Homo sapiens: one gene and its partners. The protein of the gene in region 5 purifies or fractionates together with the protein of the main gene of each other region. This does not show direct contact. Each region holds a gene or a part of one and is shown on either strand. Other genes may lie near its edges.

Evidence for each region.
Region 1: the proteins of HS1BP3 (region 5) and IREB2 purify together in Homo sapiens (affinity purification with mass spectrometry; one large-scale study listed by BioGRID and IntAct). This does not show direct contact.
Region 2: the proteins of HS1BP3 (region 5) and VGLL4 purify together in Homo sapiens (co-immunoprecipitation; one large-scale study listed by IntAct). This does not show direct contact.
Region 3: the proteins of HS1BP3 (region 5) and DNAAF9 purify together in Homo sapiens (affinity purification with mass spectrometry; one large-scale study listed by BioGRID and IntAct). This does not show direct contact.
Region 4: the proteins of HS1BP3 (region 5) and DSTYK purify together in Homo sapiens (affinity purification with mass spectrometry; one large-scale study listed by BioGRID and IntAct). This does not show direct contact.
Region 6: the proteins of HS1BP3 (region 5) and LONRF2 purify together in Homo sapiens (affinity purification with mass spectrometry; one large-scale study listed by BioGRID and IntAct). This does not show direct contact.
Region 7: the proteins of HS1BP3 (region 5) and SUPT20H purify together in Homo sapiens (affinity purification with mass spectrometry; one large-scale study listed by BioGRID and IntAct). This does not show direct contact.

Annotation. Positions count from the first base shown.
Region 1 is NC_000015.10:78,444,231-78,448,583, forward strand, and holds part of IREB2 (iron-responsive element-binding protein 2), read left to right. Parts: intron 1-4,353. UniProt on the Homo sapiens protein: RNA-binding protein that binds to iron-responsive elements (IRES), which are stem-loop structures found in the 5'-UTR of ferritin, and delta aminolevulinic acid synthase mRNAs, and in the 3'-UTR of transferrin receptor mRNA.
Region 2 is NC_000003.12:11,559,750-11,564,102, reverse strand, and holds part of VGLL4 (transcription cofactor vestigial-like protein 4), read left to right. Parts: intron 1-4,353. UniProt on the Homo sapiens protein: May act as a specific coactivator for the mammalian TEFs.
Region 3 is NC_000020.11:3,404,281-3,409,161, forward strand, and holds the start of DNAAF9 (dynein axonemal assembly factor 9), read right to left. Parts: upstream 3,390-4,881; 5' UTR 3,278-3,389; coding exon 3,195-3,277; intron 1-3,194. UniProt on the Homo sapiens protein: May act as an effector for ARL3.
Region 4 is NC_000001.11:205,170,050-205,174,402, forward strand, and holds part of DSTYK (dual serine/threonine and tyrosine protein kinase), read right to left. Parts: intron 1,513-4,353; coding exon of another isoform or gene 1,458-1,512; intron 1-1,457. UniProt on the Homo sapiens protein: Acts as a positive regulator of ERK phosphorylation downstream of fibroblast growth factor-receptor activation. Involved in the regulation of both caspase-dependent apoptosis and caspase-independent cell death.
Region 5 is NC_000002.12:20,617,077-20,620,710, reverse strand, and holds the end of HS1BP3 (HCLS1-binding protein 3), read left to right. Parts: intron 1-1,465; coding exon 1,466-1,724; 3' UTR 1,725-2,893; downstream 2,894-3,634. UniProt on the Homo sapiens protein: May be a modulator of IL-2 signaling.
Region 6 is NC_000002.12:100,301,418-100,305,770, forward strand, and holds part of LONRF2 (LON peptidase N-terminal domain and RING finger protein 2), read right to left. Parts: intron 1,627-4,353; coding exon 1,504-1,626; intron 1-1,503.
Region 7 is NC_000013.11:37,021,440-37,025,792, forward strand, and holds part of SUPT20H (transcription factor SPT20 homolog), read right to left. Parts: intron 3,999-4,353; coding exon 3,881-3,998; intron 3,004-3,880; coding exon 2,901-3,003; intron 2,755-2,900; coding exon 2,596-2,754; intron 1,606-2,595; coding exon of another isoform or gene 1,592-1,605; exon of another isoform or gene 1,284-1,591; intron 879-1,283; coding exon of another isoform or gene 642-878; coding exon 572-641; intron 164-571; coding exon 9-163; intron 1-8. UniProt on the Homo sapiens protein: Required for MAP kinase p38 (MAPK11, MAPK12, MAPK13 and/or MAPK14) activation during gastrulation.

The DNA of each region.
Region 1 (4,353 bases), on a different chromosome or scaffold from region 5:
CTATTGCTATTTTTAAGGAGTGGAGAAATCAGTGGTGTCTCCATGTATGATGGAGGACAGTTAACATCAGAGAATTAGAATGAACAGCATAATGGAAACATGAATGACTATGTTGAATGAAGGGGAAGATGGTGGAGAGACTGGCCTGGCTGGAGTGAAAGGTAGTTTTGAGAGAGTACCTGTTACTGGGCAACAGGGCCTCTGGTGGTGTAAAGCCCCCAGGCACCCTTTATCTCAGGTCATCTTATTCACCCTTTCTTTTGTCCTTCCTGTCTGCTTGCCTTTTTAACCACAGTACTGCTTAGTCCTCCAGTAGAGCCGGGACTTAGTGTCCAAATCCTACCTTGCAGCCTTTGGAAGAAAATCCTGTATTTAATTTTTTAGGAGAGTTTTTATCATTTAGAAGAATCACAAAAAGACAAGAACATTGCAGATGGTACAGAAAGTCTCATTTTTATGTGTATACAAAAATATATGTAAATATGCTACTTTTAATAAAAATAAAGTATATGTTGTTTTGTAACCCTTTTTTTCACTTAATATATCATGAACATCTTTCCATGTCATTGAATACAGGTATCCCTTGCTATCTGAATCTACTTGGTTTCTGAGTCAGGGAGCTTGAGTTCAGGTAGAAAGGGATACCTGTACTTCTCTGTGGCTTCTAATAGCTGCACAATATTGCCTGTATGAATGCATTGTGGTTTAGTTAACAGACCTTTGAATATTGAGGCTGATAGTAACTTTTCTCTATTTATAAATAAACTTTGTATGTGCTAATACTTACATTTTTGTGCAAACTTATCATTATATAGAATTGTTGGATTGAAAGTATGTTATTTCCTCCACCCCATCACACGCTTTTATTTTTATACTTTCACTATTTACTGTTGGTTCCAGTCTTTATTTTTTTTTTTTTTTTTTTGAGACAGAGTCTTGCTGTGTTGCCCAGGCTGGAGTGCAGTGGCACAGTCTCAGTTCATTGCGTCCTCCAACTCCTGGGTTCAAGTGATTCTTCTGCCTCAGCCTCTGGAGTAGCTGGGATTACAGGCCCATGCCTTCACACCCTGCTGATTTTTGTATTTTTAGTAGAGACAGGGTTTCGCCATGCTGGCCAGGCTGGTCTCGGAACTCCTGGCCTCAGGTGATCCACCTGCCTTGGCCTCCCAAAGTGTTGAGATTACAGGCATGAACCACTGCACCCGGTCTGGTTCCAGTCTTTACCTTGGACTAAAAAGAACAAAAACTCACTCAAGTAAAAAATAGGTTGCAGTTTCCAGACATCCAAAGACAAAGGAAGAAAGCATAGTCAAGTTTCAGGGAACCAGAATTTCTAAGCCAGAGGCAGTGTTCTGTTTGTCACTTAAAGGCTGCCTGGTTTCCTTATTTTCTGTTTCTTTTTGAATATCCAGTCTTCCATCTCTACAGCCTACTTCACTTACTCATTTTTGTATAATGCCCAATATGGCCACTGCTGACCATTCTTGTATGTTATGACTGGATTACTAACCGGTTAAGAGTGTACCTCTAGGTGACTCTTTTACTTGTTTTGTTTTGTTTGTTTTGTTTTTTCCCTCAGGGTCTTGCTCTGTTGCCCAGGCTGGAGTGTAGTGGTTCGATCATGGCTCACTGCAGCCTGGACCTCCCGGGCTCAAGTGATCCTCTTTCCTCAGTCTCCCAAGTAGTTGGGACTACAAGCACATGCCATCATGCCTGGCTAAATTTTAAATGTTTTGTAGAGACAGGGTCTCCCTACATTGCCTAGGCTGGTCTTGAATCCTGGCTTCAAGTGATCCTTCTGCCTCAGCCTCCCAAAGTGCTGGGGTTACAGGTGTGATCCATTGTATCCAGCTCACCTGTTGTTTTAACCTATTTTGACTGCACTTGTCAGGAGTCTATTGCCGGTCTGGTGATCTTGCTGGTAGAGACACAAATCTGTTCATCTTGTCTTTTATGTGGACTCTTGAAAAGACTGGGTTGGGTAAGCAATGTAACAGTTTGCTTGTAATTTGTACACATAGTACATAACTTTCCAAGGATTACCTTTACCTAACATCATCCTACTAGTCCATGTATAGCCATGTGCTCACCAACCCTCCACATTTCAACTTTGTTTTTATTGCCAATTTCTATTCTAGATTAGGCCCTTTTGGTTCCAAGGAACAGACACTAGCTCGAGTGAAGAAGGATTTATTGTAATGATACAGCGCTCCCCAGGCCAATGAAATGTGGCTGTCTCTCAAGAAAATGGTGGTGGCCCAGAATTAAGGAAGTTGTTTATTATTTTCTCTTAGGAGCTTCAGATTTCTGCCCTGTTCCACTCTTCTGCTTCCTCCACTTCACTATAGACAAGCCTCCTCTGCCTGCTCACTTTGTACATGGCCTCAAATGGCAACCTCAGTCCCTAGCTTAGCTCTTAACACCTTTCCAGTTCAGTCTCTCTGTGTCCTGATTACACATTTCTGAGAGGTGAATCTAATTGCCCCAGTGTCTCCTTTCTCACAAGACTTTTGGTCATCAGCCTACCAGGGGATTGGCTTTTGCGTCGCTGCTGTAGCCAAGGAGGCCACAGGCCACCGAGAACTGTAGCAGTTTGGACAGGCACCATGAAGGACATCTGTTGTATAGTGTTAGCAAAGAATGCCAGTTTACATGCTTACCAGTGAATGAGAAGAATATGTGTTTCTGCACCTTCATCAATAGTAGATATTATTTTTCTTGTTGGCTCAATTTCTGTCAGTGAATGAAGAGAAGAAAAAAAACTTTCTTCTACATTAAATTGGGGGGTTTATTGTGAAGATTTGAAGGAAATAAGGAAATTGAGGGGATCTGAGTGCGTGGTCAGATCAGACTCTTTGTTCCCTTCAGTAGGCATGCATAGAACCCATGATTCTGGCTTAGCTGATTTTCCCTATTTCTGCTTTCCTTTCTTTTTCTTTTCTTTCTTTCTTTTTTTTTTTTTTTGAGACAGGATCTCTCTTTGTTACTCAAGCTGGGGTACAGTGATGCAGTCATAGTTCACTGCATCTTCAACCTCCTGGACTCAGGCAATCCTCCCATCTCAGCCTCCCACTACAAGAAGACACCACTACACCTGGCTAATTTTTTTTTTTTTTTTGAGACGGACTCTTGCTCTGTCACCCAGGCTGGAATGCAGTGGCACCGTCTCGGCTCACTGCAACCTCCGCCTACCAGGTTCAAGCAATTCTCCTGCCTCAGCCTCCTGAGTAGCTGGGATTACAGGTGCGTGCCACCATACCTGGCTGATTTTTGTATTTTTAGTAGAGATGGCATTTCACCATGTTGGCTAGGCTGGTCTCAAACTCCTGACCTCAGATGATCCACCTGCCTCGGCCTCCCAAAGTGCTGGGAGTACAGGCGTGAGCCACCACTCCCGCTCTGATTTTTTTTTTATCTTTTATAGAGACGGGAGTCTCCTGAACTCCTGACCTCAAGCAGTCTTCCTGCCTTGGCCTCCCAGTGTGCTAGGATTACAGGCGTGAGCCACCATGCCCGGCCCATTATTCTGCTTTTCTTTTTCTCTTGGTTCTTTTTTGTTTCCATCTGTTTTCTGCCTTCTCCCTAAGTCAAGTTCAAGGTATCACAGAACGAGGCTGAGGCAGCCTATTGGACATGACATTTGTGCTTGGCGAACTCCCTGTGCCACTGGCCAGACTGTAAATTGGTTGTCTGTTGGAAGGCTGGCTCCAGGTCCCAGCTATTCATGCCAGGATGGCAAGGCTACACAGAGCCCACCAGCAATTGGTATAGAAGGAACTTTTTAGAAAGAGGGCTGTGGTATAGGCATTCTGAGGACGTGCCAGTACAGGTGAAAAAACAAAATCTTATGCAGGAATCTGTTTTGTTTTCTGCTTCCTCAGACTCTCTCAATGGCAATGTATGTATGTATGTATGTATATATTTATTTATTTGAGACAGAGTCTTGCTCTGTCATCCCAGCTGGAGTGCAGTGGCATGATCTCAGCTCACTGTGACCTCTGTCTCCTAAGTTGAAGTGATTCTCGTGCCTCAGCCACCCAAGTAGCTGGGATTACAGGTGCACGCCACCACGCCCGGCTGATTTCTATATTTTTAGTAGAGATGCGGTTTCACCATGTTGGCCAGGCTGGTCTCGAGCTCCTGGCCTCATGTGATCTCCCTGCCTCAGCTTCCCAAAGTGCTGGGATTACAGCCGTGAGCCATCACGCCGGGCCCAATGGCAATATATTTTAAAAGAGAGAAAAAAAAGGTCAGAATTTATTTATTTATTTGAAGAAATAAGGTCTTGTTCTGTGGAGGTCAGACTTTGTTTATTGGAAATCAGCCCTATCCCGCCTGGTTCTGGTTAGAGAC
Region 2 (4,353 bases), on a different chromosome or scaffold from region 5:
CCAGGGACTGCGACCTAATAGGTCCTTAGTCAGTAGTCAGCATTTGCTAAGACTGACAGAGAGGATGGTGCCGTGCCCCGAGGGGGTGCCTCCGGGCTCTGTGCATTCAGCTGCAAGAGCCTCTGTGTCCCTGTGGCCTCACCGGGGCTTCCCTCCAAGTGGCACTGCCTGGTGTCCGTGTCTGATGGGGTCTGTTGAAACTGTGGGTGGGGTAGGCCCTGGGAGTTGGGAGAGGTGGTTCTGGTGCTTGGGAATCCTGGTGAAGCTGAGAACAGTTGCCCATCTTGCCTCAGAGCCTGACATGGTAATCCTGTTTGTTTGATTCATCCATTTAACAAAATGGCACAGACCCCTGCTGTGTGCCAGGGGGTACCAGAAGCCAGTCAAGCAAGATGCAGTTTTTGTTCTCAGCACGCTCAGTTTTAGTCTGGAGGAGAGATCGCTGATGTGTCTGATGGAACCCGAGGCCAAGTTATCACTGCTGTTCATTTCAACGTTTTACGAGCGCTCACCATTTACCCAGCCCTCTGCAGAGCAGAGCTGTGGGCAGCCAGAGACGTGTGTGTGGACACTGTCACGGCCACAGGGAGCTCCCAGTCTAATTGGGGAAATGGACATGAGAAGAGAGGATTGTGCTGTTGGGCAGCAGCAGGGGCTGGAACAGAGGCGTGTGCGCAGTGCGACCCACAGGGACCCGCTCACTGCTCCCCGGGGTGGGCAGTGGACCTTTCTGCTTTGGGAAGCTCAACAGGCATTGTAATGCTGCCATGAGCCATGGCCTGAACCGTGCAGGCAGAACCTGGCTCTCTGGCCATTGCCACTGCTGTTGGGGAGTCCCTGAAGGACACGGGTATGGAGGGGAGGATTCAGCTGTAATCTCGGAGCACCCACATCCAGCCTCTGGCCCTTGATGACCTGGGGGACATAACTGTGAGCCTTACAAGCTATCTCTGCCCACATGGTCAGGGTGGGCCCTTGGCGGGCTTAGTGTGTTCTTGGATGATTTATTTCCTTGACTCTTCAGGGCTCTTGAGAATCTTGCAGTTGGTTTTCGGTCACAGTTGCTTTGCAAAAACTGAACTGCTGAACAGAGTGGCCTGACTCTCTTTACCCTGTCTCCCTCTCCCCAGCCTGGAATGGGCCTGGCTGCCCACGGCACACGTGGCAAGGGCCCCTCCTTGTGCCTTGGGGCTCCTGAGCAGCTTTCCTAGGAGGAAGAACCTCGACCCCCCAGCTATATCTTTATGGGATCCTGGCCTGGACTGAGGACAAAGCCAGGGGCCACGGGGTACCCCAAGCTGCCCATTTTCCTGGGAAGGGCACAGTGGCCCTGACCGGAGCTGTCATTTTCGGCTGGGGTTGGTCAGTCCTGCCCTCCTTGCCGTGGCTGCTGTCAGCACATGTCATTCATGTCGTAACCATTCGTGGGGCTCCTTCCTGCGGCAGCGTGGCGGGGCTGAGGCCATGCACACCAATCCGAGCTGGGCTCGGGCGCCCTGCTGAGGACACCAAGCAGCCACGTTGCCTGTGCTCCAGCAGCTCCGAGGTCTCTTCCTGGAAGTCTGTTGGGTGTCATCCTGCAGCTCAGAGCCAGGGAAATGGCAGTGGGGAGGGGGCTTCCTGGGGTGACAGCAAAGCTCTGTGTCCACAGGCAGGCAGGACGCATGCTGCAGCCCTGTGGGGTGGGCACGGTGGAAGCCTTCCTCTGTGTGGCAGAAAATGTGTCTCAGATCTCTGGGAACTGGGACAGGAAAGTTCCCAGAGGGGCATGTATGGGGAGGCTACAGAAAGTGTCCCCCCATTTCATGTTTGTGATAGCAGCTCAGGACAGACAAACACCAAGAGGGTGGCCTTGGGCAGCAGCCAGTGAGGAGAGGCAAGATGGGGTTAAGCTTCGCACATTGAGGGCTGGGCACAGTGGCTCACACCTGTAATCCCAGCCCTTTGGGGGGTTGAGGCGGCGGATCACTTGAGGCCAGGATTTCGAGACCAGCCTGGCCAACATGGTGAAACCCTGTTTTTACTAAAAGTACAAAAATTAGCCAGGCGTGGTGGTGGGTGCCTGTAATCCCAGCTACTCGGGAGGCTGACAGGAGAATCGCTTGAACCCGGAAGGCGGAGCTTGCAATGAGCCAAGATCGCGTCACTGCACTCCAGCCTGGACGACAGAGTGAGACTTTGTCTTTAAAAAAAAAAAAAAAAAAAAAAAAAGTTTGGCGCAGCCAGCCTTGGGGGTTGCTTTCAGATAGGAGAGGTGGTGGGAGCCCTCTCCCCCGGGGCAGCCTCTGTCTGAGGACAGTCACAGGTGGGTGGGACAGCGGGTGAAGGGGTTAGTGACAGGGCTCATACTGGCCCTGCCACAAATCCGCAGCGTAACTTCCAACAGGGTGTTTCTGGCCTTCATTTTCCCCATCTGGAAAATAAGGGTGTGGGGGAGGGGAGCCTCGGGATCCCATAAACGCTCACCATCTGGAGGCCTGGGGCCCGTTCTAGGTGGACGAGTCCCAGCCTGCACTCAACCACAGAGGCAGGGGCAAGATGCCTGACTCCAGCTGGGGAGGAGGGGTGGTGGAGCCAGTCCCACGAGGGCTCACGGGCCACCCTGCAGCCTGGGTTGTGGGGAGGAGGAGAGGATGCCCAGACACTGAACATCTTCACATCTGCAGGTGACCGGTTAAGGCAATTCGCCCCAGCTCAGGTCAGGAGATGCCCTGAAGGTGGTCTGATACCAGTCAGCCAGCCTGCCCTGCTGGTCCCTTGTTAGAGAGTCTCTTCTGAAGTGGCCTTTCCTGCCTTGGATAGACTGACATAAAGGCTGGACAGTGAGCTCATTTCTTCATCTTCCTTGATTCCCCCTCCCTGTGCTCGAAATGTCTCCCCAGTTCCCCACATTTGCGTGGGTCAGGACACGCTCGCTGCAAAGAACAAGCCGGCTGAGCACAAAAGGGAGTTTTATTGGGAGGACCCTGGGGGGGGGTCTCCTAGAGCCCAAGGTCATGGGTGCAGCCAGGCTCAGGAAGGGCCTGGCCATCTCTGAGAGCTGGACAGGGGCAGGGCCCTCCTTCCTCCTGGCTCTGTGCGTGTCCAGGTCTCGGTATTCTGCTCTCTTGCTGCTGCTTGACCCCTGTGGTCAGCCAGTGTGAGATCTGCTCCAGGCCTCATCTGTCGGTCCCCAACCCCCTTTCCGAGCCTGTCTGCTCAGCATTGTGAAGTCTCTCACCCGAGGCCCTGTCCACAGGCAGAACGTGGACATTCAGCCCAGCTCCACCTGCCCGGGTTCTCTCTGCGCTGCCACCTGTGCACACCATGGAGGCCGTACGAACCCTGGGCAGCTCTGTCCCGCTGCTAAGTGTCGGGCCACTAAGAAACCCTGAATTCTTGGTTGGTCTGCTGTTGCTAAGCCACATCCCCCCCTACCCTGGCATGTGTCGCTTCTTGTTAGACCCAAGCACAGGTCCTTGTGTTCAATCCCAGTTCATCCTTGTGGATCCACATTTTCATCCTAGAATCCACTTTCACCATTCCCAATCACTGTCGTCTATCATGAGAAGGTCTGGCATGCAAGCCTTTTGTGTCTTTATACCAGCTACTGCTCTAACTTTAATGGAAAGGGCTGGCTGGGGAGGATAAGGCCCAGCGTCCCTCTGGCTGACACTGCTGTCACCATTGGTCCCTGTGGGGTGATTTCAACCAGCTCCTTGCTGGCTGTCCTGGAACTTAGCCCACATACTCCACCACCTTGTCCTCGGGGGTATTGGAAGATACTTTTCCTGGGGGAACCTGAGGAAGTTCTGTTTAGTTCACAAATATTTTCTGTCCCAGGTTCCACACCAAAGCTGGGGGGCCAGACATACTGCCTGGTGTGCATGGTCTTACGGGAGCACCTGGACAGACCGATGCACTTGCTGAATCTTGGTGGGTTAGGGGAGCAGGAGTGAAAAGCGGTGGTGGTGGGGCGGTGGCCAGTGAAAGGCTTCAGAGAGAGATCTGAACAGGGCTTGAAGGAACAAGGGGAGTTTGCCAGGCAGACAGCGTGGGGGTGGGGGTGAAGGAGAGAGTGAGGCTGTGCACAGGGCAGATCGGGCTGGGGTGGGATGTGTGCCGTTCCACACTTAGGCATATTTCCTCCATTTCCTCTCTGTCCCGATTTGTAGGTCATCACTGAGGCCAACTCGAGCTGGCTTTGGCTCAAGCAAAATGCTTCCAGTTAATTGCCGTGTATTGAAGTGTCCTGGATGGCTCCAGGCACACCCGCGGCTCAGTGGACATGATGGGAAGGGCTCTGGGGACGTTAACGGGAGAATCGAGGTCCCTCCTGCAACCCTCTGTCCTCCACAGGATGCCCGGTGTTTG
Region 3 (4,881 bases), on a different chromosome or scaffold from region 5:
CCACCTTGGCCTCTCAAAGTGCTGGGATTACAGGCGTGAGCCACCGTGCCCAGCCTGATTACTAGTTCTCATCACACTGTCAACAATCTCATTCGGCTTTCAATGTCTGTTCTCAATTATTCTCCCACCTCAGAGGTAGGAAACCATTTTCTCTCAGAACTTGGAAGACACTGCTACACTGCCTTTTCTTCTTCTAGTGTTCTTAATACTAATAAATGGCAACTCCATTCTTTCAATAGCTGAGGCAAAAACCGACTAGGCCTTCTTGTATTATTGTTCTTTCGGCCGTATTTCTTCCTCAGTACTTATGACTCACTATTCTATATTATGATTTCTACTGTTACTGTCTCTTCCCCTTTACAAAAGAGTTATTTGAGGGCAGGGGACTGCTGTATTTATCTGACTCTACAGCACCTAACAGAGTACTTGTTGCATAATTTATATAAATAAACAGTGAAATTTAAACTATTAAAGAAGTTTCAAGCAGGAACAGATCGCTCTACAGAAAAACATTTTGAAGTAGAAAGTATCTTTCAGCTAGATTTCCACTGGTTCCTTAGCATTGATCCAGATAGGTTAGTTTATACCTTGGTAATAAGTCCAAAATCCCGGTGGTGTTTCACTTCTTGCTCAACCTACCTGTCAAGCATAGGTCACCTGGAAGCTAGCTCTGGGGCCTTGACTGATGGGTGGCTGCCATTTGCAGCCCCAACAGCTACCATGACAGAAGGAAAGAGAATGGAAAACTACACAACAGAAATTTGTACCATGAAAGGCTACACAGTATTCCCACGCATTTCACTGACCAAAAGCAACTCTTAAGGCCATACCTAACTTCAAAGAAGCAAGCAAGTAAAATTCTACTACATGCTCAAGAGACAGAAACCAAAAATACCTGGTAAGACTGATGACTATCACATGCTTAAAGAGAAGCCTCTCATTCTGAGTAACAATATTTTAATTCTTGATCTCCATTCTCCATCTGTGAAAATGAACTACCGTGCTAGAACCATACACTTGCAGAGTACTATCTATGGGTCTTAGGAATGTCACTTCACCAGTTAGGTTTGCCCCTTCCATCACTCAGCAGTCAGCAGCAAAGCCATATATGGGTGACAGGAAAGTGCTAGTAACATTCAATGTCAAGAGTAAGGGAAAGGCTTGAATGGGCAAGAAAAGCACGTTCAATCATGTAGAAGTGGGGAAAGGAGGGAAGCCTTCAGCAAATTTCTTTCACCAAAGGTATTGGGGGCAGCTAGGCCTTGGGGTTCCTTGCACTATTCCTTGTCTGAAATCAAATTTTATTCAAACCACTTGATAGAAGATTTGGAGTTCGGGTATGATCAGTAAAGTGAGCCAGCATACTTCTTTGAACATAGAATCACTACCTTTAAAAGAATAAATAAAAAGCACATGGCCATGCTACTAAAAACAAGAAAGGCAGCATTTAAGAGACAGATTCTAAGGTAGAGATGATTTTTTTCCCCCTAAAGATCTCAACAGACTCAAATCCAAATTCCTAAGCTCAAGATGATCTGGGATAAACCTCAAGTCCACACAGAGCCTAGATTTAACGGATGGCTGTTCTAAAGTATCCTATGCAATGTCTATACAAGTTCAAATACTTTCTGCTTCAGACAGTGAAACTGGCAGAAATGTTGCAAAGGATTGGAGATGCGTTACTATAAGCAGTTAAACTTGGAACTGTAAAGCCCACAAGGAATTACACTGAAGGGCAGAGCAGGAGTTCAAAAATGTCACCTGACAGATTCGAAGCAATTTAGGACTCCTAAATGCAATGTTTCATTGGTATCTACCCCCCACCTTCTCTATCCTTTATTTGTTCAACAAACATATACTGGATTCTGGGTTGTGGAAAGGAATGCAGGGAAGTAAAAAAGAAACAGGTTTCTAAGAATCAGTTTCTTGTTCTCCAATAATTTGGTCTAGTTAAAGCAAACAAACAACCCCAAAAATCAGATCAGCAAGCAAAGTTAAAACATATGCCTTAAGTACCATAACAAGAATATAAGAAAACTGTTTTAACATGTAGATTGGCAACCTCCTTTCAAGGGAACAATATATTTGCTTTGCTATGTGGCTAGAATAAGAAAAAGCAAACAACAACAAAACCCTCTCCTGTTTTAATGACAGTTTAGCAGTACCAAAGCTCATCGCTCGCATTCCCCCTCTCCCTCTCCTTCTCAAAGGTCTCTGCTGCAACCCCTCCATCATTCCAACCTCCACACTGCGCCGGCGCCCCACACCAGCTCCATCACAAACAATGCCCAGACCAACAAGATCAGCACCAAACGCATAGGGCACAGAAATCGGAAACGGATCTTCCTATATCTAAAGGGGGCGGGGAACGCTCCCCACGATCACCCCCTCCCCATACTGAGGTAGCTTGGGACTGTGTCTCTACGGTAAGGGGCCTGGCGTCCGCCGCTTTCGGAGGTTCTAGGCCTCTTTCCCCTATTTATCCAGTTTTTCCTCCTGCGTCCCTAATACCTCTACTTCCTCCCAACCCGAGCTCCCTATTGTGGAGTGAGGGGGCGTCGCGATGCAGGCTGAGGCAGGGGGAGCTGGGGAAACGCGCGACAGGGGAGATGCTGTCATTATGTACGTAGGGGGCGGGGGACACTCTTTAAGGAAGCCGTTGTCAAGGGCAAAGGCTCTAGAGACCCACGGGAGGGGGCTTTCTAGGTAATCCATTTGGGGGTTCTACACGAGGGAGCTATTGTGTGTGTGGAGGTGTGAGGTCTGTAGAGTAGCAGTTTCTGAGGGAAACATTCCCTGGGGAAGGCGAGTGAGTTATTCATAGGGAAGCCTCTGTGGGGTTCTGTGTAGAAGAATCCTTCCTGGGAGAAACGTTCTATGGGGGTGAGGACGTCATAACAGTGTCTTCACAGGGAATCGCTGTCCCTAGGGAAGCCATTGTGGGGAAACCGTTGCAGGGTTGTCTGTGGGGGAGCCATTGTGGGGAAACCGTTGCGGGGTTGTCCAAAGGGGAGCCATTGTGGGGCCTCTACAGAGGGCGCCGTTCCTGGGAAAAATTCCTCCCTGAGCCGTTCAGCAAAGAACCGTCCCGAGGAAGCCATGTCGGACCACGCCCTGCGGCGGGAGGCGTCGCCGGACCCCGACAGCCCGCATCCCCCGCCCGGCCGCCCCTCGGCTGCCTCTGCCCCGCGTACCTGACGGAGGGTGACCCGCGGCTGGAGCCGCCAGGGGACCGAGCGCGGGGCAGCCCCTGCCGGCGCGGGGGGTACACGTCCATGGCGGCGGACGACTGGCGGCGGAGGAGGACGGTGCAGCTGCGAGGGTCTCAGTTGCCCGCAGGGCGGCTCCACGCTAGCTGCGGCCGGGCGGGGCGGCAGGGCGTGCCGGGTGGGAGGGGGCGCGGCGCGCGGGCCCGGCGGGGGCGGGGGCGGGGGCGTGGAGGGGGCGCGCGCACCGAGAGCGGATGGGGGCGTTGGGAGCGGCTGGAGTTGGGGGTCGGCGCACGGCCACAGGGACCCCACTTCTTAAGCTGCGAGGCCGCCGGACCGGATGTTGGGAGCGCGTGTCCGCAGGGTGAGGGTTGCCACAGCGCCGCCCGGCCTCGTCCTCAAGCCCGGCATCATAGAGCGGGGCTCTGCGCGGCGCCCCCCGGCCACGCACACGGACGCGCCCGGGGGCGGAGCCTCTCCCAGCCCGGCCCCGCCCCTCCGCCTCTGCCCGCCCCGCCCCGCCCGACCAGCCCCGGCCTCCAGCGAAGTCTTCCGCTCCGGCGTCAGGATCCAGCGCACCTCCCCAGTACCCAGCGCACCTCCCCAGTACCCGGCTCGCTTCCCTGTTCTCCGGAACGGTGTCTTCCCGCTTCCTGGTCATCAATTCCGCACCCACCCTTCAAACATCCAATAGATTCCTAGCCGGCCTCGGGTTAGCGCAGCAGTGCGCACCCAGCCCTGCGCAGGGCATGAGCGTTAGAGGCGCACAGGATCCCAGAAGACCCCTAACCTTTACTGTTAAGATCCTAGCTCTACCGGTTTCTGCAGGGACATGTACAAGAAACTTGGGAAATACTGCACTGATAGTTGCCAGGAGTCCTGTATATACAGGACGTATTTAATGATTATTGGCCTGCGTCCTTCGTTGACCTCGTCGGAATGCCTTAAATGTCCTGTATTCATCTTTTTACACTAAATTGCAATAATTAGAGCTATTTTTCTCCCACAGTAATTGGTGCTAGATCACTTAAATTACAACACTGGCTGAAAATCCTTCCTACACTAATGAAGATTTGGACAATCCCTATGGTGTCTCCTTCAGGTTTGGCTGAGGGAAGACCAGAAGGGAGTAGGAATTTAAAGTGCTCGTCTTTCATATTCAAGAAAGGAAAATACTTTTTTAGCTCAAGTCCGGAGTCGTGAACAAATAACCACCATTATTTAGAGATAACTTCTCGTCGGTGCAGCAGCTCTGAAAATCAGCCAATCAGCGATAGCCTCACTCCGGTAACTATGCTTCTTAGTAAATCAATGACAACCCCACGCTTCTGAAAGTCAGCCAATCAGTGACCGCTCTAAGCCTCCGACAATAGCCAATCAACAAGTGCCTGACACCAGCGACCAGGCTTCCGAAAGTCAGTGGGTACTCAGCTGCCGCACTCCACTTCTGATTCGGAAAGACAGCCAATCCCTGAAGGCGAATATTTCCAAAACCATTTTTTTTTCTTTCCCAGACTGAGTCTCATTCTGTCGCCCAGGCTGGAGTGCAGTGGCGCGATCTCGGCTCACTGCAACCTCTGCCTCCCGGTTCAAGCGATTCTCCTACCTCAGCCTACCGAGTAGCTGGGATTACAGGCTCCCGCCACCACGCCTGGCTCATTTTTGTATTTTT
Region 4 (4,353 bases), on a different chromosome or scaffold from region 5:
TAGAAAGGATGGCAACCCCTTTAGCCATCAGATTAAAAAAAAATTTTGGTCTCTGCCTTCCTTTATTGCTTAGACATTCCCACTGATTCCCTCTGATGAAGAATTAAGACAAATAATGGAAGAAAAAGGAATTGTAATGGAAATTATCAGACTGGGAGTGAGTCGACCTGGGGCACTCCTCCCCCTCTTGCTCTCCTCTGACACCTCCATCCCTGCCATTCTGACCTGGCTAACTCCTAAGCATCCTTTAAGTTTCAATGTATATGTTATGACATATCCTTATAGAGCCTTTCCTATCACACAGCCCCAACCAAGCACACTTTACTTCCCTCTTCTTAAGGTTCAACATATTTATAATCCACTTCTTTAAAACCTTTCTTTCCCCCATGGGTCTGTAAACTCTTTGAGGGCAGGGACTGGGTCTATTTTGCTTACTATCGTAGCTCCAGTGCCTAGCATGTGGTAAGTCCTAAATACTGTTGAATTAATCAATTAAGCAGGAAACGAAAAGCCAGGTTCACCAAACATTATTACTGTCCTGTTCTGAGTCTGTAGATATCCCGAAGTCTTAGCAACCTAAGTCTAAGAAATACCTTTAGGAATATGATCGATCACTTGGTATGGCAAAGACCAAGGTTTGCCTATCCAATATCTAGTCTCCATGTTATAAGTGAAGGCAATGTCCTTTACAGATAGGGGTATCCGATAAGTGGGTGGGGTTTCCAGGAAAGCCCTTTAGGGTACAGGGGGTGGATTCTACCAGGAAATATGTCCTTTGGCCTTGTCCTTCTTCCTGCTTGGAGCACAGATGTGACAGCTAGAACAGCAGCGATCACTCAGCAGCCCTAAGGCAAACCTGATGGTGGAAGCCAGCACTAAAGATGATGACACCAAAAGAAAGAGGGAGCTTAGGTCTCTGGTGATCACAGAACTGCCATGCCAGCTCTCAGTTACCTAGCTTCAGACTTCTTTCATGTAAGGAAAAAAAAAAAAACCCAAAAACTCTATCTTTAAGTTCCTGGTTTTTTTGTGTTTGTTTGTTTGATGATCTGTTACAATTGAACCTAATCCTAACTGAAATACCCAAGTTTGCTAAAGTGAGTTTCGAGAATGATCTTTAAGCTCGGCGCAGTGGCTCACACCTGTAATCCCAGCCCTTGGGAGTCCAAGGCAGGAGGATCGCTTGAGGTCAGGAGTTTGAGATCAGCCTGGCCAAGATGGCAAAACCCCATCTGTACTAAAAATACAAAAATTATCCGGGTGTGGTGGTGGGCGCCTGTAGCCCCAGCTACTCCAGAGACTGAGGCAGGAGAACGGCTTGAACCCAGGAGGCGGAGGTTGCAGTGAGCTGAGATCGCCCCACTGCACTCCAGCTTGGGCGACAAAGCAAGACTCTGTCTCAATTAAAAAAAAAAAAAAAAAAAAAGATCTTTGAGGTTTGAGGTTTAGAAACAAACCTTCCACAGGTCCTTTGCCTCGTCTGCACTTTCCACTTTGTGTTCTGCTTCTTTCCTGTGAAGGTTCCAAACACACAAGAGCATATGTCCATCTACTGCATTTCCATCCATTGCACAGGTTGTTCCTCTGTGTCTCTGACATTGTCTACTTTGCCTGGCATTCCAGGTGTAAACGGTTAACTAGGGACTCACACATATTAATATATTACCACTGTAGGTACACAGACTCCTGATGTCTTCAAGGGTCTGTAAACTCAGAATCAATCCTCCATAGAATTCTAGCATATTTTAGAGTTATAAAAGAACTCAACACAAATATGCTCAAGTTTGTGTCCTTAACAGTTATCAGATGTTGAATATTTACTTTGTCTGAAGTCTAAAAGATACACAATTTCGTTTCTTTCAGATGATTATGCTGTTTTTATTTCTTACCCTATCTGAGCAGCAGGTTTATTGATTGATTGATTGAGATGCAGTCTCACTCTGTCACCCATGCTGGAGTGCAATGGCACGAGCTCGGCTCACTGCAACCTCTGCCTCCTGGGTTCAAGTGAATTCTCCTGCCTCAGCCTCCCGAGTAGCTGGGATTACAGGCACGCACCACCACGCCCGGCTAATTTTTGTATTTTTAGTAGAGATGGGGTTTCACCATGTTGGCCGGGCTGGTCTTGAACTGCTGACCTCAAGTGATCCACCTGCCTCAGACTCCCAAAGTGCTGGGATTACAGGTGTGAGCCACCACACCCAGCATGAGCAGTAGGTATTTTTGATAAAAGTTTTTCTGTTTGTTTGTGGTTTTTTTTTTTTTTCTGAGACAAGGTCTTGTGCTGTTGCCCAGCCTGGAGTGCAGTGGTGCAATTAAGGTTCACTGTAGTCTCAACCTCCCAGGCTCAAGTGGTCCTCCCACCTCAGCCACCCAAGTAGCTGATACTACAGGTGTGAGCCACTACGCCCAGCTAATTTTCATTCTTTTTTGGGTTTTTTTTTTTTGGTAGAGATGGGGTTTTGCCATGTTGCCCAGGTTGGTCTTGAACTCCTGAGCTCAAGCGATCTGCGCCTCAGCCTCCCAAAGTGCTGAGATTACAGGTGTGAACCACTGTGCCCAGCCTTGAGTTTTTAAAATCTTTTTTATTTCCAACAAAGCACAAATATCTCACTTTCTTTTCTCACAAAGAACTATGCTATATTCTCAGATAGGTCACATAACTTTAATTTGCCTGGCCACTTTGAACTCCCTAAAGCTCAAAGTGCTTTTAGCATCTCACCATTTGTCATTTTAGCAAACACTACATAAGTCAATCCACCCTTTATCCAACCCCAAGCCAAGAAGAAATTTGCTGTTTCATCTGTGTCTCAAGTTGCATGGAATGTTTTCTGGTTGGAAGACTAGTCTGATGCTCATCTTGCTATTCAAAACAAACCCCCTTTCACTACCCTGAGTCACACATGCTACAGTATGAATCATTTCAGTCAGGCATATTCAAAAAGTTGGTAAGTAACAAATTTTAAGGTTTAAAATAGAACATACAACTGCATAAATGACAACATTATAATCACATATAACAATGAGATAAAGACTAAAAGGAAAGGAAAACAGTTACATTAGGCTGGGTGTGGTGGCTCACACTTGTAATCCCAGCACTTTGGGAGGCTGGGGTGGGCAGATCGTTTGAGGTCAGGAGTTCAAGACCAGCCTGGCCAATATGGGGAGACCCCGTCTCTACTGAAAATACAAAAATTAGCCAGACATGCTGGTGCACACCTATAATTCCAGCTACTCAGGAAGCTGAGGCAGGAGAATTGCTTGAACCGAGGAGACGGAGGCTGCAGTGAACTGAGATCACACCATGCACTCCAACCTGGGTGACAGAATGAGACTGTCTCAAAAAAAAAAAAAAAAAAAAAGAAAAGAAAAGAAAACAGTTACATTAAAGTAAAGAATTATAGGTGGAAATATTTTTTATATTACAAAGCTGCCCTAAAGACATATTTTTTAAAAGATATAAATCAACCAATCAAATTTATGAAAGGAAAGCCTAAATATTCAAAACCAAAGTATTGTTTAGAAATTTCAGGAAGAATTTTGTTTGTTTTTTCTGATGGATTATCTTAAAATTCTAGAATAAATTTTCAGGTTTTCCTTAAAGGACCATTTTGTGTGCACAACAGAAACATCAGCCAAAGCTGCCAAGTCCATTTGTAAGACCAATACGGTTGTTTTTTTTTTTTTGAGATGAAGTCTCGCTCTGTCGCCCAGGCTGGAGCGCAGTGGCACGATCTTGGCTCACTGCAACCTCTGCCTCCTGGGTTCAAGTGATTCTCCTGCCTCAGCTTCCTGAGTAGCTGGGATTACAAGGCATGTGCCACCATGCCCAGCTAATTTTTGTATTTTTTGGTAGAGATGGGTTTTGCCATGTTAGCAAGGCTGGTCTTGAACTCCTAACCTCAGGTGATCTGCCTGCCCCAGCCTCCCAAAGTGCTGGGATTATAGGCGTGAGCCACCATGCCTGGCCCAATACTGTTTTTAAGAGACCAGCTGACTTTATTTGCTCATAGGTGTAAATTCATTATTAAAGAAATGAATTTTGGAAGTCAGGCACAGTGGCTCATGCCTGTAATCCCAGCACTCTGGGAGGTTGAGGTGGGCAGATTGCTTGAGGCCAGGAGTTCGGGACCAGCCTGGCCAACATGGCCAAAACCAGTCTCTATTAAAAATACAAAAATTAGGCTGGGCAAGGTGGCTCACACCTGTAATCCCAGCACTTTGGGAGGCCGAGGCAGGTGGATCACGAAGTCAGGAGTTCAAGATCAGCTTGGCCAATATGGTGAAACCCTGTCTCTACTAAAAATACAAAAATTAGCTGAGTGTGGTGGCACAAGCCTGTAGTCCCAGCTA
Region 5 (3,634 bases):
GGATGGTAGAGCAAGTACAATCCCACTTTATAGAAGAGACTGAGGACCAGGGAGGAGGAGTGGCCTGAGGCTGCCTGATGGAGGAGTTGCAGGGTGAGGAACGGAAGCCAGTTCTCCTCCTGCAGTGCTGTGCTTCTGTGTACAGTTCCGTGCAGCAGTGCCAGTGACACTGTTACTCCTGCTTGTAGATGAGGAAGCCGAAGCTTGTAGAGACCAAGTGGGTGCTACAGGTCTTCTGCCTTCACTCACCTGATTCCAGCATGGCTGAGCGATAGACGTAGAGATGCCCGTTAGCACAAGGGAAAACCTCGCCGTGACACTGGAGTCTAGGTGCCCCAGCCAGGGGAACACACCCCAGAGAACCAGCCACATGCAGGCCAAGTCCTGTTCATCCTCACACTAGCTGTGGGTCTCAGGGCAAGGCCCTTTGCCTCTCTGCACCTCAGTATTCTCAGCTGTAAAACGGGGCTAATCTCTGCGACCACACAGTGTTTGGAGATTATTGAATGGGTTAATGAATGTGGAAATGTCTGGCCATCACGGGTGTTCAGCACAGAGCTGAGTGGGTGGAATGGATTGAATGAGTCTTCCACTGTGCATCTGGTCTCCAGAAATCAAGTTCTGGAGAATCAGTGGCCTGGCCTGTTTCTTGCCCTCAGTACCCAGGGATGGTCCTGAGTGACCGTAACACTGCCAGGGCTTTTTGCCCACCCACCAGTGGGAGATTAGAGGTCTGGGGTCATGACAGAGTCTTGGTGGGCCCTGGCCGAGGCCATCCTCAGCTCTCACTGGGTTCCGTCTGGCACCCGTGTGGCCCACAGCGGGGCACTGTGGGCGGGCCAAGCCTGTACCACCATGGCTCAGCGCCCCTGGTTATTCTTTCTCTGGCTGAACTTGCTTTGGATGAGGGCTCAGCTTCTAAGGGCCGATGTCCTGTTCCTTCCAACAAAGGCACTGTCACATACCATCCCCTCGAGGTCACTCGGCCTCCTGGGACTCCAGCGTCCTCATCTGCGTGATGGAAGCACAGTCATGCCTCCCCAGAGTGGCGTTTTGAGGATAAGATATGATAACGTGTCTGAAGTGCTGTACAGAGCGGGAACTCTGTACATAGTAGCTGGTGGTTATTTCTGAAGGGATTGGAGGGAAAGCCCCCTACAGAAGGCAGCGTGTGTCAAGTGGGGTCACCTGAAGAGCAACTCTCAGGAGGCTGCGTGGGGCCTGCCCTGTGCCTGCTTTGCTGTGGGTGGGAGGGAAGGAGAGCCCTGGCCTTCGTGTCTCCTCTGGGCAGGATGGGTGGAGGGGCCAGAGTGGAATGGGGCAGAGCAGGGCGGGGCCTTGACCTGGCCGAGGCTGGGCTCCCTGCCGCTGCCCAGCCCCGTGTGGGCACTGGCATTGCCTGGGGTCTTGTTCCTGTCACGGGGTGGCAGTGTTATGCTCAGGGTTCCTCCCTGTGGTTCCCTAGAGTTGAAGAGGACTTGGACCAGATTCTGAACCTGGGAGCTGAGCCCAAACCCAAGCCCCAGCTTAAGCCCAAGCCACCAGTGGCAGCTAAGCCGGTGATACCCAGAAAACCAGCTGTTCCCCCCAAAGCGGGCCCGGCTGAAGCTGTGGCTGGGCAGCAGAAGCCGCAGGAGCAGATCCAAGCCATGGACGAGATGGACATCTTGCAGTACATCCAGGACCACGATACACCAGCCCAGGCCGCCCCCAGCCTCTTCTGACCCTTCCATGCTGGCCCCTGGCCCAGCAGGCCTGTCTGTGGGGACATCGGTGTGAAGGGAAGGGACTGGGCCCTGCAGGGTCAGAACCTCCCCACCCCCAGGGGAGGCCAGGCAGAAGCCTGGGTCACAGCACCCAGAACTGCATGGTTCCATTTTCTCCGGGGCTGTGGGGCCAAAGTAGAAGCCTGCGGGCTGCGGGAGCGGCTCTCACCCTAGGAGCCAGAGCCCAATGTGTCTTATTCCCCGTGGACATGAAGGGGAGGGAGGGTGTGGGGATGCCTTGCCAACCAGAAGCCCAGCCCCAAGGATGAAGCAAGACATGTGGGGCCGTAGCGAGGTGTCACATGGGGCAGGGAAGCTTCATGCCCACGGGTTCTGCCAGCCCCAGCACAGACCCAAACTGGGGCTGGGCCTCTATCCCTCCTCTGCCTCTGTTCGCATAGTAAGAAGGAGTGACCGGTATCCTCCCCTTCCCCTACCCTAAGCTGTAGCCTGGGTGACTGACTGGCCTGGGCCTGGGGTGGGGACGTCCCCAAGCCAAATTACTCCAGGGCCTCTGCTCCTCGTGGCTGCCAGGGGCCTGCAGGGTCTGGGTGGGTCTCCCAGGAGAGGAATACTGAGTGGGAGATCGGCTGTCTGGAGTGTTCTGATGCAAGTCTCTCTCTCCTGAGCCTCCTCTTGATGCAAGCTCTAAAGGGAGAAGTCAGGCCCTGCCTCTCCAGGGTATAGACGGCCCTGCTAGGCCCCAGTTCTTCCTCCTTCCCCCTTTCCCAGGAAAGGCCAGCCCAGTCCATGGCCTTCTTGGGCCTCTGGGCACAGAGCCAATGTTCGTCATTGCAGCTCTCAGCAAACTGGGTCATAGCTTTCCCCACAGCTCAGCCTGGGGCCTGGGCAGGGCTCCCAGCCTGCACCGCCTCCCACTGCCAGTGGGGCATGATTCTCTCAGGCTTCTGCCCCGAGGCCTTCGTCGTCCTCAGGGTCTGGACTTGGTCAGTGGCCTTTCACCAGTGGAGCTGCCTTCCCAGGGAGAAGGAGCCGTGCGCCAGGGCAGGGCCCGTGCCTTAGACTTCTCCCGACCCCCAGAGCGCTGGTACACAGGTCTAGGCACCACACAGTGCTTTGGAAATTCTCAGTGAATGATGTTTAATAAAGCAAAAAATGTCAAGGTGTCTTTCTTGGATATAATTCTTCATGTTCAGAGCTAGTTTTTTGTTTTGTTTTGTTTTGTTTTTTAATGAAACAGTAGTTTTAAAGGAAATGCAACCACTATTGCTCCTTGGCCCTGTCCTGCCTGGCAGAAGCATTGAGCGGGTGGGACTAGGACCTCAGACCCTTTTCTGATAGACACCAAAGCCAGCCCTGAGGGAGCCCCCGGCTGATGGTGCGGGTGGTTTGCAGCCATCAGTGTTGAGTGTCTCAGCTCCTGGCCCGTGCCAGGACCTGTCTGCTCTGTCCTGCATCTGATCACGTCCCTCTCCAGCTGTGGCGCCCTGTCCTGAGCAGCTTCCCCTCCACCAGTGCTAGAGTGAGAGGAAACAGGTGGTTTTGGGGTCGAGAGCTGACTCCCTCCTCCTCCGTCTTAACCCAGGCTCAGAGGGTCAGCTCCCTCCCCAGGGCTCTGAGCCAGCTCTGGGACAGCTCCAGCACCGGCTCCACCCATTTGCCTTCCCCCTTCACACCCGCCCCTCCTTCCCAGCACTCAGCCCCGGGCCCTGCATCCCTTGCTGACTGCAGCGGAAGGTCTCAGTAGGAGTGGGGAGGGGATGGGGCCAGGTCTTCCTCCGAGAGGTGGCTCCAGCTCTCCTCTGGGCTTTGTCCCCTCCCTGCCCTTTCTGCACCCTGATGCTGGCTCCCTGCCTCCTGCTCCCCACCTGCTTTGGGTCAAGTGACATAGGAGCAGAGGGCACAGC
Region 6 (4,353 bases), about 80 Mb from region 5:
GTGACTGAAACCTAAACAAAGACTCCTCCCACTCTCCACTGTTCCTCATGGTTCAAGGTGAGTGCGCTAGAATCCATGGCCTTGCAGCAATGCGCACCACCACCCTCAGCAGGGACATCAATGTCCTCAGCCCCAGCTCTGAGCAGCCTCAACAGAGCTGCTGGAGATGGAGCCACATTCCATGTGAACAGGCTAACATTGTTTTTGGTACCGTCTGTGATACAAGATATCTATCAGCCATAGAATGTCCAGGGGAAAACACCATGTCTGAAAACGCTCCAGGTAGACAACAACCCAGAAGACCTAAACCCTGGTCCAGGAACCTTGGTGAATGTGCTTCATCTCTTTGACCTTGGACTGACTTTCTCAGAAAAGTGTTATGAGAATCAGTTGAGATATGTTTTAAGATTCTTAGGAAGTTTCCGTATAGGACAAAGCAGGCAGGGATAGCTGAATAGCAGGCTGAAGATGCAATATTATTTTGACAAGTTGAAATGATGGCCAAAAACCAATGAGTGATACTGGTCAATTGAACAACTGTCAGGACAACTGAATGGGACTAACGCCAATCAATTGCACAAGAGAAGATAAAAAACAACATTGCTCTGAAGTTCTTACTTTTAAAAAAGAGGAACGAGGTATTTAAAAATAAACATGCCCCTAATGTGAACACAAGTGAAGGTAAAATTTCACCAACTGTGGCTGTCAAATGTAGATGCTAAAACACAGGGTACATTAGAACACATCCAGAAGAGGAAATCTTAGAAACGCCACTCTGTGAGAAAAGAATGTTTGGCCCACAGGGTGACATTAAGGCAAAGATAATAGCTGTTCCCAAACATCTAACGTGGTTTGAATTGTACAAGGAAGAACTGATTCATTTTCTGTTGCTCCAGAAAATAGAACTACACAGGTAAGTAAAAATTACAGGGTAAATACGTGGTAGAAGTTGACAATAAACAGTGTTAAAACAGGGAAGCGCAAACATAAAAACATAAAAACGCTGGTCATTGGAAATGCTAAGTAAATACCAGGTAACTATTGTATAAGCTTTTTAACAGGACAGATTTCCACATTCAGTGTGACTGGATGATGGGTAAAAGAGCAGGTATTTCTGCACTATGCTGGTGAACCTTTGCTGAAAATTACAGGTCACCCTATAGAGCCGAATTGATACATTTTACATATATCATAATGTCTTTTATGAAGCTTCTACACAAACTATAATAACCTTGCCTAACATGTGTCTTTATGTCAACAGAATCGAGGCATGTTTACACTGTCTCATGAAACACTCTGCTTTACCCAGGGACAAAATATAATGTTTACCTAGAAGTTATCCAATGTATGAACCTTACAATTATTGCCATGCGTTTTTTATTGCATTATCACGAACATTCAGAATTATATTTCTTGTTTATTTCACATGCAAGGGTTACTCAGCATGGACATGAAGGCTATAAATAAGACCTGATAGAGAAAGTCCTTTAACAGAACTCATACCTTCTGTGCTTCTTTCTTCACAGAGTTACATTCAGGATTCAGAGCAAGGCAGTAGAGAAATTCCTTTAACACTTCCTTACTTCTTCCCAATCCAGAAAGAGCCTGAGCTTTTACTTGATGTCCCTAGATTCACCGAAGACAAAGTGTACATTTTTAAAACCCAGCATGATTATATACTTGAATACAAACTTCCCTGAACAAATTTATTAGAACAATTTGTTTTAATTTCACATTACATAGAATAAACAAAGCCCATCAAAGGATGACTCTATCGCTACTTTCTCTACCCTGGAAACTTAGCAAACTTCAATAGCTCATAAATACAATCTACAGTCAGAACACAGGAGCTACCGTACCTGAAATGTTCTGCTCAAAGGAGTTCTAAGGGACGTGCTAAGAGAAAACTGGCTATCCACTTTAAATTCATTCAGCAGTTACAGGTCATTACCATCTTCCTGGCTTCCAGGAGTTTACAGTCTCATGAGCTAAGACAGACACGACTAAAAACAATTACAATACAAATCATAATATACTAAGTGCCACAATAAAAGTAAACAAAATACAATATGGATCAGTAATTTCCCATGGCATTTTCTTTTCATCTTATGAATGCAGTATTTTCTCAAATCTATAAAAACACTATTTTTGTTTCTTTTTTTACTGGTTTACATATAGTTGAAAGACTTTCTCTTAGCACTTGAAATATGTTGTTCCAATGTCAACCAGCTTCCACAGTTTCAGATGAGATGACAACCATAAATATTATTTCCCTGTATGTCATTTTTCTCATTCTCATTCCATGTCATTTTTCTTTACTGCTTTCAAGACTTTCCTTTTATCTTTGGTTTACAGCCTAGCCATTTGATTATGACTTGAGTTTATCATTGCTTATAAGTTGAGTTAACCTTCTTGGATCTGAAATTAATGTTTCCCACTAAATTTGGAAACTTTTTACCCATTATTTCTTCTTTTTTTTTCTTGCCAAACATTTTCTGTCTTCTTCTGAGATTCCAATTGCACATACGTTGTACCACTTCATATTGTCCCACAAGTTTCCAAGATTCTTTTTGTTTTTCTTTAATCTTTTTTCTTTCTGTTTTTTGCATTGAATAATTTCTCTTCCTATAGATCTATCTTCAATTTCACTGATTATTTTGCCATGTATAATGTGTTATTAACCCTACCTAGAAATTTTAAATTTCAGCATTGATAATTTTTATCTCTAGAATTTCCTTTTTTTTTCTTTTTTAGAGACAGGGTCTCACCCTGTTGCCCAGGCTAGAACGCAATGGCATGATCACATCTCACTGTGACCCTTAACTCCTGGGTTCAAACAATCTGCCTCAGCCTCCAGAGTAGCTCAGACTACAGGCACATGCCACCCTGCCTGGCTAATTTTTTTGTAGACTTGGGGTCTCGTGATGTTTCCCAGGCTGGTCTTGAACTCCTGGCCTCAAGTGATCCTCCTGCCTCAGCCTCCCAAAGCATTGGGCATACATGCATGAACCATGAACCCAGCCAGAATTTCCATTTTTTATAGTTTCCATCTCCCTGTTGAGATTGCTCTTAAGTCAAAGGTACCATATTGTCCTTCAATTCTTTGCATGCAATTTAACTCTTTGAACTTATGCATAATAACTTCTTCAAAGTCTCTTTGTGGAAAATATAATATCTGGGCCCACTCAGAGACAATTTTAGTTGACTGTTTTTTTTTTTTTTTTGAGACAGAGTCTTGCTCGCTCGTCCAGGCTGGCGTGCAGTGGTACAATCATGGCTCATTGGAACCCCTGCCTCCCAGGTTCAAGTGATTCTCCTGCCTCAGCCTCCTGAGTAGCTGGGACTACAGGCGCCTGCCACCATGCCTGGCTAATTTTTTTTTTTTTTTTTTTTTTAGTTGAGATGGGGTTTCACCATATTGGCCAGGCTAGTCTCAAACTCCTGACCTTGTGATCCACCTGCCTTGGCCTCACCAAGTGCTGGGATTATAGGCGTGAGCCACTGCACCCAGCCTCCATGGCTCCTTTTTAAGCCTTGTGGTTCTCCCTGATGCCTATGAAATTTGGAAATAAGCCAGGATTTGGCCAGAGCTGGGAATCATCCACTCCGGGATTTCTCTGCTTTTAGGGATTCCCCTAATTTCCAGCTCTTCTGTTAGAACTCGGAACTCTGAACTCCTGGTACTTTCACGTAGTGATCCTGAGTGTTTGTCCCAGTACTGTTTTTGTGCAGCTGCAGCTGTGGAGATAGACAGAACTCAGGGACCAAAAAGACAAAACAAAAAACAAACAAACAAAAAACCCACACACAATTCTTTTCCTTTTCATGTGCAGGTTTTTTTAGAAACTCTCCTCCAGCTTCTGTTTTTGGATGTTTTATAGTGTCTTTATTTTTTTTAATACAGTTCTTATAACTGTTTTCCCCTCTGGATTCACATGACGACTTCACTCCTTCACTATTACCAGAAGTAAACCACTACCCCTGTTAATGTCATTTTAATTATTTCTGTATAAAAATTCTCCAGAACATTGGCAGCCACTGATGGGTAAATGTGAAGGTCTATTTTCAGGTCCTGTCTTACTGCACTTCTCTCTCCATTGTTTGAAATACCATGACTGTGCTGATGGTGCCCAGGTTCCATCTCCAGCACCAACATCTCTCCTCATGCTTGCTAACTGTCTATTCACACATTGCTTACCTTGCAGCCCTCTGGAAGAGCAGCCATTTCAAAAGACATGATGAGTACTTTAGACAACAAATCATCAGTTTCATCCCTGAGCTCCCTGAAGTCTCAAATACACTTCAGACAATCAGTGATTCATCTATGGGACTTTACATTGATAATAAATGTGA
Region 7 (4,353 bases), on a different chromosome or scaffold from region 5:
ATTCTGACCTGCTTGAGAAGCTGCCTGCATTGCACTGGGCAGTGCATTTGGTAGCAGACCTCCTGAGGGTAGAAGGCCGCTCAGGTTTATTCCTGCAGGAGTTATGGCACCAGTGTTACAGCCCAGCATGGGGTTTGAACCACTCATCAAAGCCTGGGCCCCACTGCAGGAGAATAAGACAAAGCATTAAACTTCACTGTAAAAGGAAAAAATCAGCCACACAATTCCTCAGATTAAAAAACAAAACTACTAAGCAAACACAACTAGTTATTTATCTGTCTTAAATATCAAAGAAAGTAATGCAGAAGATAAATAGGAAATTCTAAGCTGCTGTCAAGATGAAGTATCAAAAAACAAAAACGATAAGATGAGATATCATCTTAGTGCAGTTAACAGATGTATTATTTAAAATTAAAACATACATGGTCAGGCAGCTTCTGTCCATATCTAAACTATTCCTTTTCAGTCTGAGTAATATGCGGTTTGTTCTTAATTTCACACATTAAGAATTTATTTAGATTGGTGAAACTATCTTTATAAAAAAAAAATCCGAACATCAATGCAAACTTACCAAACAGAGCCCACTACATTGATGAAGTTAAGTCCAGCAGAGTTTGCCATGACCTGGGTGGCCGTGGTTCCTGGAGTTATAGATGTTACCATGGTGGAAAGAGGAATGGTTGTTACAGGCATTGCCTGGCTCAGAGACCTTTGCTGCTGAGCAAACTGAGTTAACAAAGTGGGCTGAGGGGTGAAGCCTGAATCTTGGGGAGTAGGGGTGGCTGAAGGGGTACTAGGAGTTGAGCTCTGAGCATCAGGAGGGTGTGGGGTCGATGAAGGGGTTGGTGTAGGAGTAGATGGCTTAGGAGTTCCAGATCCTGCTCATTGAGAAAAATAAAAATTGCTAGTTTGTTATAAATGGCCAGTCCTTTTAAAATAAGGTTAATGGAATCTTACTTAGCACTGACAATTTGTTCTAGTTTTTTTTTTTTTAGCAGTTAACTGCAAGTGTTAATTTCTACACATGATACATGAGTGTTGCTACACTCAATTACAATTAAGGATGCAGTATATCACCTAAAAATCCCATTAAAGATGCTATTGCAGTAACAGTAAAAATATACAGTTATATTCTACCACAATACCCATTTAAAAGTTAGTTTCCTACATGCTGCCTTTGGCCTAAAAAGTTCAAAACGAATTCAAATTAATTTGTTATTTACGATTTCACTAATTCAAGACTTCATTTAAAAATATTGCTTATTTAGTGTAAAAGTCTGAGATAAACTGTAAACATATTTAATAAGTTACATATGGTTAACAATCATATTTGGCACCTAAATATACATGTTTAATTCCTAACACATCAAGTTTATCCTGACAAACAAATTTACAAAAAACAGTAATAAAGCAAATATCTGAGAGATAATACTGCATCTTTAACAGTAACTGTGTACTTCTGTTTAAATGTAGAATGTATAGAAAATCTGTTGTGAATGAAGTATGCACAGTTTATCAATTTTTTAAAAAACAAAAACAAAAAACAAAAACCAAAAAAGTAAAACCAAAAGCTCTTGAGGTGTTTTCTTTTTTAGCTTTCATGTCCTGCAGAAAGAAAGGAAAGAAATGTGAATGTCCAGAAGCTGTCACTCAACCCTTACTTAAAGTAACAACTGTGTGCAGTAGATTACCATAATCCATACCCACAACATAAGAAGTGTGAATAAGACTTTCAGAAAATTTATATATTTTTCTTTGTGCAAAACAAGAAGGCAGAAAAATTACACCTTTTGAGCTATCGAGATGAAGATGTTTATATCTAATGCGAAGACCACCCTATCACTGTGCAGTGTACTAAAACTTTCAGCATATATTAGCTATCTATAAAAAATCTAAAAAACTGGAATGACTTTTTTCCCCAAATTGGTACTTTCAGATATTTACTAATTTGAAGAAATTCTCCCAAACTAATGCTAGCATTCTTGTATAACTCTTCTTGATGTTAAAAAAAAGTATTCAGTAGTAAAAATTACATTTCAGTATCTTCAGAATAATGCTTTATGATTATCATCACATTTTAGTAACTGACAACAATTTATAAAAGAGTGTAGGAGTGTTTTTGAAATATTGTTTTTCAGTTTATTGTATCACCACCTTGGAACTAGTTGACTTCTTACATATACACAAAGATAGGACCTGCAGCAACAACTCTTATGACATTTTTTTCATATCAGCCACACAATTTACATAAATATGCAAAATGATCCTAGGGTACACTGGAATAAAAAATATTTTGAAATCTTATTGCCACATGTAACTACCAGGTTATTTTTTTAAGGAGATGTGTAGGTTGTAAGCCTATAAGAAAGGTACACGCAGAATGTATACACAGATACAGAAAAACAAGTACAATTACAATAGAGACATAATACATACAATCAACAAGAGCTCTGCCTGAAGCTTCTAGCAACTTATACATTTTGGGTACACAGTACATTCAGATATCACTACTTCACAGGTTGAAAAAAGCTGTCTTAAGAAACACTAATGCAAAAGCTTATGAAGATTTAATGAAGAATTTAAGTTATGACTCACTTTGTGATGAGCTGGCAGGTGATAGGGCAGCTGGAGAAAGCATGCTAACTTGATTGAGATCCACAGATGATTTCCGAGGAATACTTGATGGCTTAGAAGAAGGAGGAGGAGTTGGAGATTTGAGAAAGCTGCTTGTCTGTTGTGGTGTAAAATAGTTACCTAGAAGAACATAAAAGTTATTTCCTAAATTTATAATTCAAACTTCTGTGAACTGTAGAAATCAAAATGGGGCAAAGTTTTAAAAAGAGATTATGATTATATAATATTTGTTATTCTAGACTGCAAAAAACTAAGAAATGTAATACCTGAGGAACTATTTCCTGAGCTTGAGGGAAGTTTGATTGGTGGGGGTCGATGTTTTACACCCTTCCCCAATACCGAAGACTGAACTGACACGGTTTCAGTTTGCTAAAAGACAATGACATTAAGCTTACTTGTTAAAATTAATACTGCTATAAACCCCAGATGATATTTATATTTAACTTCATAGTTTATTAAATAAAATTAATACTGCTATAAATCCCAGATTTTTAACTCTGCAAAGTGCTCTTAGTGGTTACAGATTGAATACTATATGTATTACAGAGAAAATTTCACATGAGATTCATGAAATATATTACAGTACACATAAAGAATGAGGAAAAGATTTCTGAGTAATAGGGTGGGAAGAGAGAGTTTTAGGGAGAAAGGCAGAGGAGTAAGATGAAAGCAAGCTTCCACTCTTCCATACTTATCTATTAAAGGAAAATAACAGCTGTTGAAGCCAAATGACTAGAACACAGGTGTTCACTGTAATTTTCCTTTTATCTTTGTGTACATTTAAAAATCATGTTATAAAGAGTTAAATAATTTTAAAAAAAGGTAAAAGTAGAAACAAAACTAAACTGTACCCCCGCTCCTCAAAAAATGATTCTTTTTTTTTTTTGAGATGGAGTCTTGCTCTGTTGCCCAGGCTGGAGTGCAGTGGCGCTATCTCGGCTCACTGAAACCTCCACCTCCGGGGTTCAAGAGATTCTCCTGTCTCAGCCTCCCGAGTGGCTGGGATTACAGGTGTGTGCCACCATGCCCAGCTAATTTTTGTGTTTTTAGTAGAGATGGGGTTTCACACTATTGGTCAGGCTGGTCTCGAACTCCCGACCTCAGGTGATCCACCCACCTTGGCCTCCCAAAGTGTTGGGATTACAGGCATGAGCCACTGTGCCTAGCCTCCAAAAATGATTCTTAACATTTCTCAGATTACTTGTGAAACAACTGGGCACAAAGAAGTAACATTAATGAAACACACATCTGTTTCTTTCCCTGGAGAAACCTGACTCAGACTGGCTGAGCCACTGGAGCTGTGTGACATCTTGACCGGACATTTGGCTTCATTCTGGACTAATTCTTGGTACTGATTGACTACCCTAAAATATCAGGAGAAAACAGGTAAAGATTAGAAAACCTGTTTTAAACACAAATTTATTTTATAGGAAAGAATAATGACTATTAATGGCAAAAAGAAAGTTCTATCAAAATTAACATAAATATTAAAAATTAGGCAATTTATCTTTGTATTAAAAGTACATATTTTTAAACTGTTCAATGACAAATTGTCCAAAACATTGTGCTAAATAACAATCTAAAGATATACTTTCAATATCTTATTTCTAATACAGAAATTACAGGGATTACTTAAGTAATAAGCAGCCAAAGAAAATACTCAATTCCTTTCTTAGATTCTGATTAAAGTACTATCTAGAAATCATCTTCCTTAGCTAC